Homo sapiens: one gene and its partner. The protein of the gene in region 1 interacts with the protein of each later gene in a pairwise test. Each region holds a gene or a part of one and is shown on either strand. Other genes may lie near its edges.

The links. Proteins that work in one complex are often made in the same cells at the same time.
Region 2: the proteins of ZNF396 (region 1) and ZSCAN1 interact in a two-hybrid assay, tested with the Homo sapiens proteins (one large-scale study listed by BioGRID and IntAct).

The regions. Positions count from the first base shown.
Region 1 is NC_000018.10:35,366,037-35,371,366, reverse strand, and holds the end of ZNF396 (zinc finger protein 396), read left to right. Parts: intron 1-1,706; coding exon 1,707-2,152; 3' UTR 2,153-2,921; coding exon of another isoform or gene 2,922-3,016; 3' UTR 3,017-4,673; downstream 4,674-5,330. UniProt on the Homo sapiens protein: Isoform 1 and isoform 2 act as DNA-dependent transcriptional repressors.
Region 2 is NC_000019.10:58,035,971-58,041,300, reverse strand, and holds part of ZSCAN1 (zinc finger and SCAN domain-containing protein 1), read right to left. Parts: 5' UTR 5,290-5,330; exon of another isoform or gene 4,819-5,289; coding exon of another isoform or gene 4,808-4,818; intron 3,574-4,807; coding exon of another isoform or gene 3,465-3,573; coding exon 3,095-3,464; intron 852-3,094; coding exon 757-851; intron 1-756. UniProt on the Homo sapiens protein: May be involved in transcriptional regulation.

The sequences.
Region 1 (5,330 bases):
TAAATAATTTTAAATTCCTTTTGTAATAACTATTTAGACCCATTTGATTTGATTTTTATATATTTTTTCAAGTTAGGTTTATTTAGTTTGCTGCAGCAAGAAAGAGAACACGGCACAGAAACTATGGGGTGTGTCATTAAGAAGGAATTGGGAAGGGCTTATGTTAAGATTTGAGCTTATGTTGGGTGATTCTAAGGAGATTGTAGAGACAGCAGGTAGATCCATTTTAAGTAAATTCTAAAGAGTAAAACAACAACTCAGTTTTCTTATTCAGTATCACATTGCATCACTAATTCTTCTCCCCAGACTACCTTTCTCACCCTAACCTTTTCATTAGGCCTTGAGAGGGCCCAGGGAATCACTTATCATCAGTACCTCTCTGGGTTGCTTTTAATCTTATTTATATAATTACTTCAGATAAAGGCACCCCCAGTAGTCACAGTCAGCCCCAGCCAAGTCATCTCCCCAGACATGTCCAAAACTGTTGTACTTTGCTTTTATAAACTCATTTTAAGCTCCTGTCTTTCAGCAGCTTCAGTTAAAATGCCACCATGGGCCGGGCGCGGTGGCTCACGCCTGTAATCCCAGCACTTTGGGAGGCCGAGGCGGGCGGATCACGAGGTCAGGAGATCGAGACCATCCCGGCTAAAACGGTGAAACCCCGTCTCTACTAAAAAATACAAAAAATTAGCCGGGCGTAGTGGCGGGCGCCTGTAGTCCCAGCTACTTGGGAGACTGAGGCAGGAGAATGGCGTGAACCCGGGAGGCGGAGCTTGCAGTGAGCCGAGATCCCGCCACTGCACTCCAGCCTGGGCGACAGAGCGAGACTCCGTCTCAAAAAAAAAAAAAAAAAAAAAAAAAATGCCACCATGAGGATAACTGAAGTGATTTCTTCAGGTAATGCAACCACATTACACTGGCATTTTCACATCTGAGTTAGCAGTTCTGCTGGAGCTTTAGGCACCCTGAGTCATAAGGCCCTCTGCATCAAGCCAGGTTTGTGTGCCGCCTGAGTGGCCGCAGCCCATAAGCAGCCATGTACGTTTTTCATGGATGTTAAATGTAATACAAAATAATACAACAAACAGCGATTCAACCAGTAATATAAAATCCATACAGGAGTAGAGGTTTTTCATCAGTGGGTACTCTGCTACCCTTGATCTTTTGAGGTACTAGTTATCCTAGTCTATAATCTTCCCTTTATTGGCCTAACTTATATTTTCTTACTTTATTTTCCACATTCCTTTTTGGCCCCTTGGCTTTCTTCAGCTCATTTCTTTGCATAGTTACTGATTCCTTTATGAATATTAAGCTTTATTTATTTATTGATACTCCAGTACTAAATCTTGTTTGTTACTCCCACTGGCACATTGGATTCCTCTCCTTCTAGCTCTCTGTGTCTCCAATCATTTCTTCTTTCTAAGCCCTTTCTTTCCTTCCAGACTTTCCTTAGTCTCTGACATATCTTTTTATCCTTATTCCCTATTCTGTCTTTTCCATAGAACTTTGCAACTTTACAGTTTAGTTGACTGCCTCCTCAGTATGTAAACCTTTCTCTATGTCTTATATAAACTTCTCAATATTTTGTCTTACACTCTCCGTCCTTCACATTGTGTGTTGTTTTATAAACATGCTAGCAATAATCATGTATATTTCATTTGGATCATCCTTTCTCTTTCCTGGTGACATTTGTTTTTCCATTTCAGATGAAGACATCAAAACTACAAATGTGAAATCTGCTTCAAGGCAAAAGACTTCTTTAGGCATAGAACTGCATTGCAATGTTTCCAATATCCTTCATATGAATGGCTCCCAGAGTTCCACATATAGAGGAACCTATGAACAAGATGGTAGGTTTGAAAAGAGACAAGGAAACCCTTCTTGGAAAAAACAACAGAAATGTGATGAATGTGGCAAAATCTTTAGTCAGAGCTCAGCCCTTATTTTACATCAGAGAATCCACAGTGGAAAGAAACCTTATGCATGTGACGAGTGTGCAAAGGCATTCAGCCGAAGCGCAATTCTGATTCAGCATCGACGAACCCATACTGGTGAGAAGCCCTACAAGTGTCATGACTGTGGCAAAGCCTTTAGTCAGAGCTCAAATCTTTTTAGACATAGGAAAAGACACATTAGAAAAAAAGTCCCATAAGTATCATGAGGGAATCAAAGCATTTACTCAGAGCTATTTCAGCACAAGGGAAGACACCAGATGCAAACGCTCCTTAGTACAAATCAGTGGTCTTAGTAAGCACCAGTCTCCTTTCAAGACTCATGAAAGCCACAGGAGAGAAGGTTGAAGATCTCAGGTCAGCATTATTTGCTTTTCTGCTTATCAATGCAGTCTCAATTCTGACGTTTGCAATTCCAAAGCTTAATTCAGATTTCCATCCCTATGCAGGCCTTGAAAAGGCATTCTCAGACATGTTCTACTATTTTCATTATTAACACATATAATGAATTAGTATATATCTTTTTAGACAAGTATGTTTTTTCCCTCATTGAGAAGGAATGTGTGAGTTACTCAGTGTAAAAATAGACATTCTCCTCCATTTCATAACTTGAGCACTAGAATTCTAAAGACCAAAAATTAAAGCACTCAAAAAGAATTCCTGGCTGGGTGCGGTTGGCTCATGCCTGTAATCCTAGCACTTTGGGAGGCCGAGGCAGGCAGATTGCCTGAACTCAGGAGTTCAAGACCAGCCTGGACAACACGGCGAAACCCCGTCTCTACTAAAATTCAAAAAATTAGCCAGGCATGGCAACGTGTACCTGTAATCCCAGCTACTAGGGAGGCTGAGGCAGGAAAATTGCTTGAACCGCTCAGACAGAGCAAGACTCCGTCTTTAAAATAAATAAATAAATAAATAAATAAATAAATAAAAATAAAAATAAATTCCTATTTTGTCTTCTGTTACTAGATTCAAAATATGAACATGCGATTGCAGAGGCCCAAAAGAATATGTACTTCAAGACTAGGCTGAAGTGCCCCAGGTCACTTTCAGGAGGCAGATAAATAAAGGCCTTATCTTATGAAAGCACACAAGAGCCTCCATACTATTAATATCAAGTTAATTTCCCGTGTTGGAAAAAAATAATCTCCTTTGCAATGTAATTTGGAAATAAGTCAATGGAAACATGAAAATGACTGCTTGTCTACAAGGAGTCAGCTAAACATAAGGAATGTTTTCATAACAATATTAATCTATGGGTGCTTCTGTAAGATGGATGATCATCTTAATATAAAGAAAAAAGGGAGATGAACAAAATTGTCAAACAAGACTGATGTACCACAAGTGTTGTCAAGTACAGTGTGTGTCGGAGAGATGTACCACAGCTTAACTGGAAGAGGAAGCCCGTAACTGCTGATGACAATACTTTCAGTGTCCCCTTTTCTGGCATAAATCAACTATGAATATGTTTCAAGCATCACAAGACAACCTTTTCAGAGTCTTCTGTATTCTTAGTAAGATGAGTTTCTAGACACGCTGTCATGAAATGAGACCCTGGATTTTGATGCTCTTGTACATATGGACAAATCACTGAAGTTCAATTTAAAGGGTCCACTGCAGTCCCTTATAAACAATTGTTGAACCTAACCATTATAGTTTATAAGTTTTAAGACATTTATGGGATATCTTATTTGGCTTATCTATGGGATATGAGTAACTATGTTTTACCTGCATTTAATTCAGCCAGATTCCCTGTTTAAAATTACTGAATCGTACATTATTAAAATTATTCTGACAGTATACAAACAACAAAATTATCTATTTTCCAGAGATTCTTGATAAAACTCTGTAATGTTACTACAATAATACATGTATTGTGTTTTCCATGGTGCTACAGTTACACAATATGGAGGCAAACATCAGAAATCAAAGTCCTTGGAATAAGGGAAGAGACTCATAGTAAACTTCTTTGTCTGGTTGGGTTCCTCATAAAGTATAAAACATTTCATTCTCAGAAAATCCAACCATATCTTAGAGTATCTCCAGAAACTGGCTTAGAGGAGCTCCAAATATGTGGAATTACCACACTCTGCTTAGTTAGTATGCTGATAAATGTAAGATTAGTAGGAGGAGAAGTGAATGTAAATTTTATTATAGAATTTTCTGATAGTGATTATGATTTGTAGCTCTAGTGAATATGAATTTTATATTGAGTTGTGTGTATCTTGAGTCACTAAAAATGTAGGATACTTTTTATTTGGGGCTCATTGTCTTTGTAATTACGGAGAGGAACAAACCATCTATTGAAACAACAAGTGCCTCAGAGATGTATATATTGTGAATTACTGCTTAATTACGGAAAGAGTTTCTTAGGTTCTATGTGAATAAGATGGCAGAATCTAAATCAAGTATTTTGAAGGAAGCACCCATCTTCACTTGGTGCTGCCATCAACTTTGTAAGATTGCATTCTATTTATTGTGAATAATTTGAGTGTTTCCACAGGAAAGTGGTATGAATCATATCGTCTAAGTATATGATGAATCTTTAAAGGGTGTCTCTGTGTACTTTGAATTATTTTGCAGTTATGTAGGTATCCTAATGAGTGAATGGTACTAGTTTATATAAAAGGAGAATTCATTGAGCTAACCTTGGTTTTAAAAATTAGCATTAGCACCCCCATTATATTAATTTTCAGGGATAGTAAATACTCCAAAATGAAATTGGTATTGTTTTCTGGCTTTCACTTCATCTGGGCCTTCAAGATTACCAATAATCCTATATGGTTTGTTTGTTTTTGTTTGTTTTTGTTTACCACTCCCATTCTCTTCAGAGACCAAGTCAAATGTTCATCACTGTCCTTACAACAGTGGCTTAAAACAGCAAGCCTTTGTGTTAGGAATGCTTCTGGATGCAAAATCCATCTTTGGTGGTTTAAACAAATAGGAATTTTCAACCTGAAATCTGGAAGGTGGGTTGCTGGCTCTCAATCTGCAGCTGGAATGACGACTGGTCTAACTTTACCTCATGCTATTTTGTCCGATTTTCGAGAGAGCTGTCACAGCTCTAGGAACTAGGATTAAGTCAGGAAGAAAGGAGAAAGACAGCCATGCTAAGCAAAAAGCTTTCCAAAAACCTTAGCAAAATCTGGCTTATGTTTCCCTGTTGCAACTGTGTCTGGTAGGGCAAGCGTTTTCAACCTCTAGAGGGAAAGCAGGCCAGATGGGGGTTGAGGACGACATTGGGTTAGCCAACCGTGTTTGCCATACTAATCCTTTGCCACCTTCCTCCTTACGGGCAGACAACTATCTTTTGCTTCCTGCATTAAAGGAAAAAAAGATAAGAACTCTTACAAGTTCCTATGACTAAATTTGCCAAAT
Region 2 (5,330 bases), on another chromosome or scaffold:
CTGACAGCCACATGGGCAGATGGTGCTCTGGCCCGGTCTCTGGTCTGTGAGCAAAACCTTGCTCCATTCATTGTTCGACCGTGCTGTGTTTCCCTTGGCGGCTCCAATACCAAGATCCAGAGGCAGAAAGTGGTCAAACTCAGTAGCCCTGATCATACGAACACATGCTACTCACTTAGCAGTTCTTACTTTTGTTCTTTTGTGATTTACCCATTACCCCTGGATTTCTCTCATGTGTCTGCGTGTCCCCACCCCTGATTTTAATCTCTCCAGCCACACAGAGATCCGCTTGGCTCCCAACCGAGCCGGGCCCCTCCCGTCGCCTTGAGGCCTGCGCAACAGCAGGTCTAGCTGCAGGGGAGCCCTCAGCATTTCCTTCTGGGCCCGCCCAGAATCCTGGGTTCACTGAGGGAAGATGATCGGGGCAGCAGGACTTTCTCAACACACGCAGCATCTGGTGCGGGTGACACAGGAGGATGGGTCTTAACTGCGAGGCTGGGAAAGGACAGGAGGGGCTGGGGTGAGGCCCAGAGGCACACAGCAAACACACAGCTGCACTGACTGCCCTCGCCCAGCACTGAGCCCCAGGAAGCTTGGGGAATCTGTGGGGCAGGCGGGGAGTTTGGAGGCCGGGCTTCCTGGGAGCGCTGGGGACAACCTCACACAGTCCTTGGATGGGGCATCCTTGAGGCCGTCCCAGAAGCGGCACGCATGCCCTGGGGTGCAGGAGCACGGAGCTGGGGGCCCCGGGCTCACCTGCGATGGTTCTTTCTGGGACCTTGGACTCTTCCCATCTTCCTCCTCACCGAAACTCCAGTCCTGGGGTTCGACCGAGTCCAGAGATACCAGAACTGTGCGGGAGAAAGGGATCGTGAGAGGGGCCTGTTCTTCCCAGAGCCCCCAATTCTCCAGGCCTTCTGGGGAGGGCAGACTTTCCCCGAACATCCCTGCAGCACCCCTGAGGCGCAGGCAAGAGTGGCTGCAGGGCTGTCATTCTGTCCCTCCATGTGGCTGCTGGGCAGGAACCTGTGGTGACACCGAGGGCCGCTGAAGACAAGTACCCTCTTCACTCATACTCCACACCCCTGTGCGCCTCCAGAAGCCCACGAGGACACACACTGCAGCACTGACTAACTAGGGAGGCCCGAGCACTGTGAGCCCTCTGCTCCCCAAGCCCCCCGGGGCTGTGTGCACAGAGTGCACAGAGGACGACTGCTGAAGCAGGGTTCAGGACACCATTGACAGAAGGGTCAAGACGTGGGAACCAGGCCAGGCGTGGTGGCTCACACCAGTAATCCCAGCACTTTGGGAGGCTGAGGCAGGAGGACTGCTTGAGCCCAAGAGTTTGAGAGCAGCCTGGGCAACACAGCAAGACCCCCCCCTATTTATTTTTTAATTAAAAAAAGAAAAATTCAAGATCACGGCCACCTCTGGGGTGTCAGGCAGAGCGGGGGACAACAGGACTAGGAGACGTGCATGGGGGTTCAGCTGATTCCACTGGTTGTTCCTTTTTTTTTTTTTTTTTTTTTTGAGACGGAGTCTCGCTCTGTCGCCCAGGCTGCAGTGCAGTGGCGTGATCTTGGCTCACTGCAAGCTCCGCCTCCTGGGTTCAAGCGATTCTCCTGCCTCAGCTTCCTGAGTAGCTGGGATATAATATAGGCACGCGCCACCACGCCCGGCTAATTTTTGTATTTTTAGTAGAGACGGAGTTTCACCATGTTGGCCAGGCTAGTCTCGAACTCCTGCCTTGTGATCCGCCTGCCTTGGCCTCCCAAAGTGCTGAGATTACAAAGCATTTCCTAGGTTGGGCTTTGATAAGGGTGGGTGGCCGGTGCAGGGCTGTTCATTATACTTGCTCTACTGTTTCATAGGCTCAAAATATGGAATGTAGAAAGCAGACCACCGCTATGGAAGACAGATAGAGAGCCCTTTGCTCAAAAACGTTGAATTTTGAGAGTGACCATGGAACATTAAAACTAGCAAGGGTGGCTCTGGGCTGGGATGGCTGTGAGGTCCACAGAGCGCCAGAAGCCAGTGCTCTTGGGCCCTCTACCCCAGGATCAGAGAGTTCAAAGGGCCAATTCATCTGGCTTCTGCCTTGCAGCTTACAGGGCTACCCTTGAGCCTCTGGAAAGCTCAGCTGTCACAGCTTTCCTAAGTGTGGCACCGGCTGCCCTGGGGCAGTAAGGGGACCCTGGACCCTGTGTTCTGCAAACTGCTTATCACTGTTGGTCTACGGAAATGCTGTAGTGGGAGGGTGCAAAGGGAGGGCCTGTTCCTCTCCCTTGCTCCACCCCTCTTTTCTGTGAGCTCTGATGCAACCCTTCTCACTCCCAGCCTTTGCTCCTGCAGCGTGGCTGCCTGGCACCCTCCTTGCTGGGGCCCTGCTGGGGAAGCCCTCCCGAGGCCACAGTGCCACGACTGCTCTCACCATCCGTGGCTGCCTCTTTTGGCCTCCCAGTGTCCAATCCCTGCACTTTTGTCACTAGGAAAGAAAGAGCCCCACTCATGGGACTGGGCCCTGGGTGGATGGAATCTCGACGTGGGGTCACAGGGGCAAAGATGCAGAAGGACAAAGCCCTGTCAGGGGAGAGGGGAGCTGAGAGAGGAGACAGGGAGGGAGCCCAGTTTCAACCCCAAATTTCCCAGCTCCCAGAGTCGGGATGCAGACCTAAGCGTCTCTCCCCACCATCAGCCAGCGATGGGGCCTGCGCCCTGTGAAGGCTTAAGGATCTCTAGGATTCCTGAGTGTTGCAGGAGGCGCTGCAGGTGGCTGGGAGGAAGTGGCGAGGCAGCGTCCTTCCCAGAGAGCAGCCGTGAGGAGCAGCAGACACAAAGCCACAGGACAGATGGACGCATGGGAAATGGAGGGATCTTTAATCACCGACTGAGTGAGAAATTCGAGGCAGATGAGGCGTGCAGCACATTTATATGTAAAAATAATTAAAAACACAGCCGCGGGGCAGGAGAGGTTTGCTGGTCGGGAGGGGCCGGGCAGGGGTGGGAGCGATGTGGGCGGGAAGGAGGGCAGTTCGGTCCTCGGAGACGTCAGGCCCCCTGGCCCGGCCCGGGGCAGGAAGCCTGCGCCTCTCACCTTCCTGCTGGCACATCTGTGTGAGGTCCTCCACCAGGCTGGCGGCCTCCCTGCAGCTTCGGGGGCCCTGTGACTGCACCCAGGTCCGCATCTTGCTGGGCAGCGCGCCCAGGAACTGCTCCAGCACCAGCAGCTCCAGCATCTGCTCCTTGGAGCGCGCCTCGGGCCTCAGCCACTGGCGGCACAGCGTCCAGAGCTGGCCCAGCGCGAGGTGCGGCCCGCTCGCCACGTGGTACTGGAACTGCCGGAAGCGCAGACGCTGGGCTTCGGTGTCCCTGGGGCTTGCTGGCCCAGGGTCTGCGTCCTGCTCACTCGGGGTTGGGGTCTGGGGGCGTCTGGGGGAGGCAGGGGCTTTGGGCCGTGGAAGCATTTCTCTGGCCACAGTGCCCCTCTGAGGGGTGTGTGTGGACTGGATCCCGAGTCCCAGTGGCTCCGGACAGAGCCGGTGTGGCAGGCGGACAGAATCAGCAATCAGGGGCCTGCAGAGAGGGGCAGGGACAGAGGGGTCACATCAGATGGTGGCCCTCTGTACTCAGGATGCCCCTCGGCTCCTTACTTCCTTGTTCTGACCTCCAGCACCCCAAGGAACCAACCTGACCTCTTCCCACCTTCTGACCTAATCTTCCACATGCCTCTCACAGGCTACTTTGCACTGAGTTCAAGCCACTGGCTGCCCCAGGACCTTTGCACCTGCCATCCCACCCCAGCCCCTCCCCTTCCCACCCCAGCTCCTCCCCTCGCAGATGTCCTGGCCATCATCCTTATGGCACTGTCTTCATAACCTCCATGACTTTCTGAACACAACTTTTCCCCTTACTTAGTGTCTATCTCCCTCTCATTTAGTCATTCAACACACATTGACTGACGAGCTGCGGGAACAAGAATGCCTGCCCCGTGGTGTGGCCAGCACTGCCCAGTGAAGTTCCTACAGGGATGTAAAGATTCTCTACCCATGCAACCACCTACGTGTGGCTAGGAGCACCTGAAATAGGAACTGAATTTTAAATTTAAATTCCATTTAAATGGAAGCAGCCAGGTGGGCTACATAATAATGGATGACACCACCACCAGCAGCAGGTCTACCCATGGTGTTATCTTTGCTGTCTTCCTGACTTTCCTACCAGGTCCAAGCTGGGGGTGGAGACCAGGAAGAGGGCAAGGGAGACTGGAGACTCTGAAAAGAGAGGGAAAGTGGGAAGAGTAATTTTAAAATAACCTTTTGTGGCCGGGTGCCGTGGCTCACACCTGTAATCCCAGCACTTTGGGAGGCCCGGGTGGGTGGATCACCTGAAGTCAGCAGTTCAAGACCAGCCTGACCGACATGGCGAAACCCCGTCTACTAAAAATACAAAAATTAGCCGGCGTGGTGGTGCACACCTCTAATCCCAGCTACGTGGGAGGCTGAGGCAGGAGAATTGCTCCAACCCAGGAAACAGAGGTTGCAGTAAGCCAAGATCGCACCACTGTACTCCAGCCTGAGTGACAGCGTGAGATTCCATCCCAAAAAAAATAAATAACCAAAAATGAGTTGGGCGTGGTGGCACGCACCTGTAATCCCAGCTACTCGGGAGGCTGAGACAGGAGAAATGCTTGAACCCAGGAGGCGGAGATTGCAGTGAGCTGAGACTGTGCCACTGCACTCCAGCCTGAGCGACAGAGTAAGACTCTGTCTCAAAAAAAAAAAAAAAAAAGAAAAGAAAAAAAAGAAGTTACCTTTTGTACATTTTCCAAGCCGACTATGGTGAACATATAACTGAAGAAAACATTAAAAGTTGTAAAAATAAAAATAAGCAGGGAGGTTTCGTTTGTTTGTCTTTAACAATTGTACTCTGGACTGATCCGCTGGTGAGAATATAAATTGGCACGACCTTTCTGGAAAGCACTGTGGCCATTTATATATCAAGAACACTTGGTAGACTGCGTGCAAGATGCGAGATTCAGGCACCAAGATTCACTACAAAAGTGCCCAACAGTTGAACGTGGTGGGATCAACTACCTCCCCCATCATGTGATGGGAGTATTCAACCGTGCCCAGTACACAACACTATGACATGACCACGGGGAGTAGACACATGATGTACAGATGACATGAGGCACAGGGAACGTGGGATGCAGGATGATGCGTGAGTGTCATAGAAAGGGAGTCCTGGGAAGACGCCCATGGGGGGCGGCCAAGTGCTTTGTGCTGTTCATACTTCTCTGAATCTCCTCCAAATGGTGTCGGGCTCCCATGTGA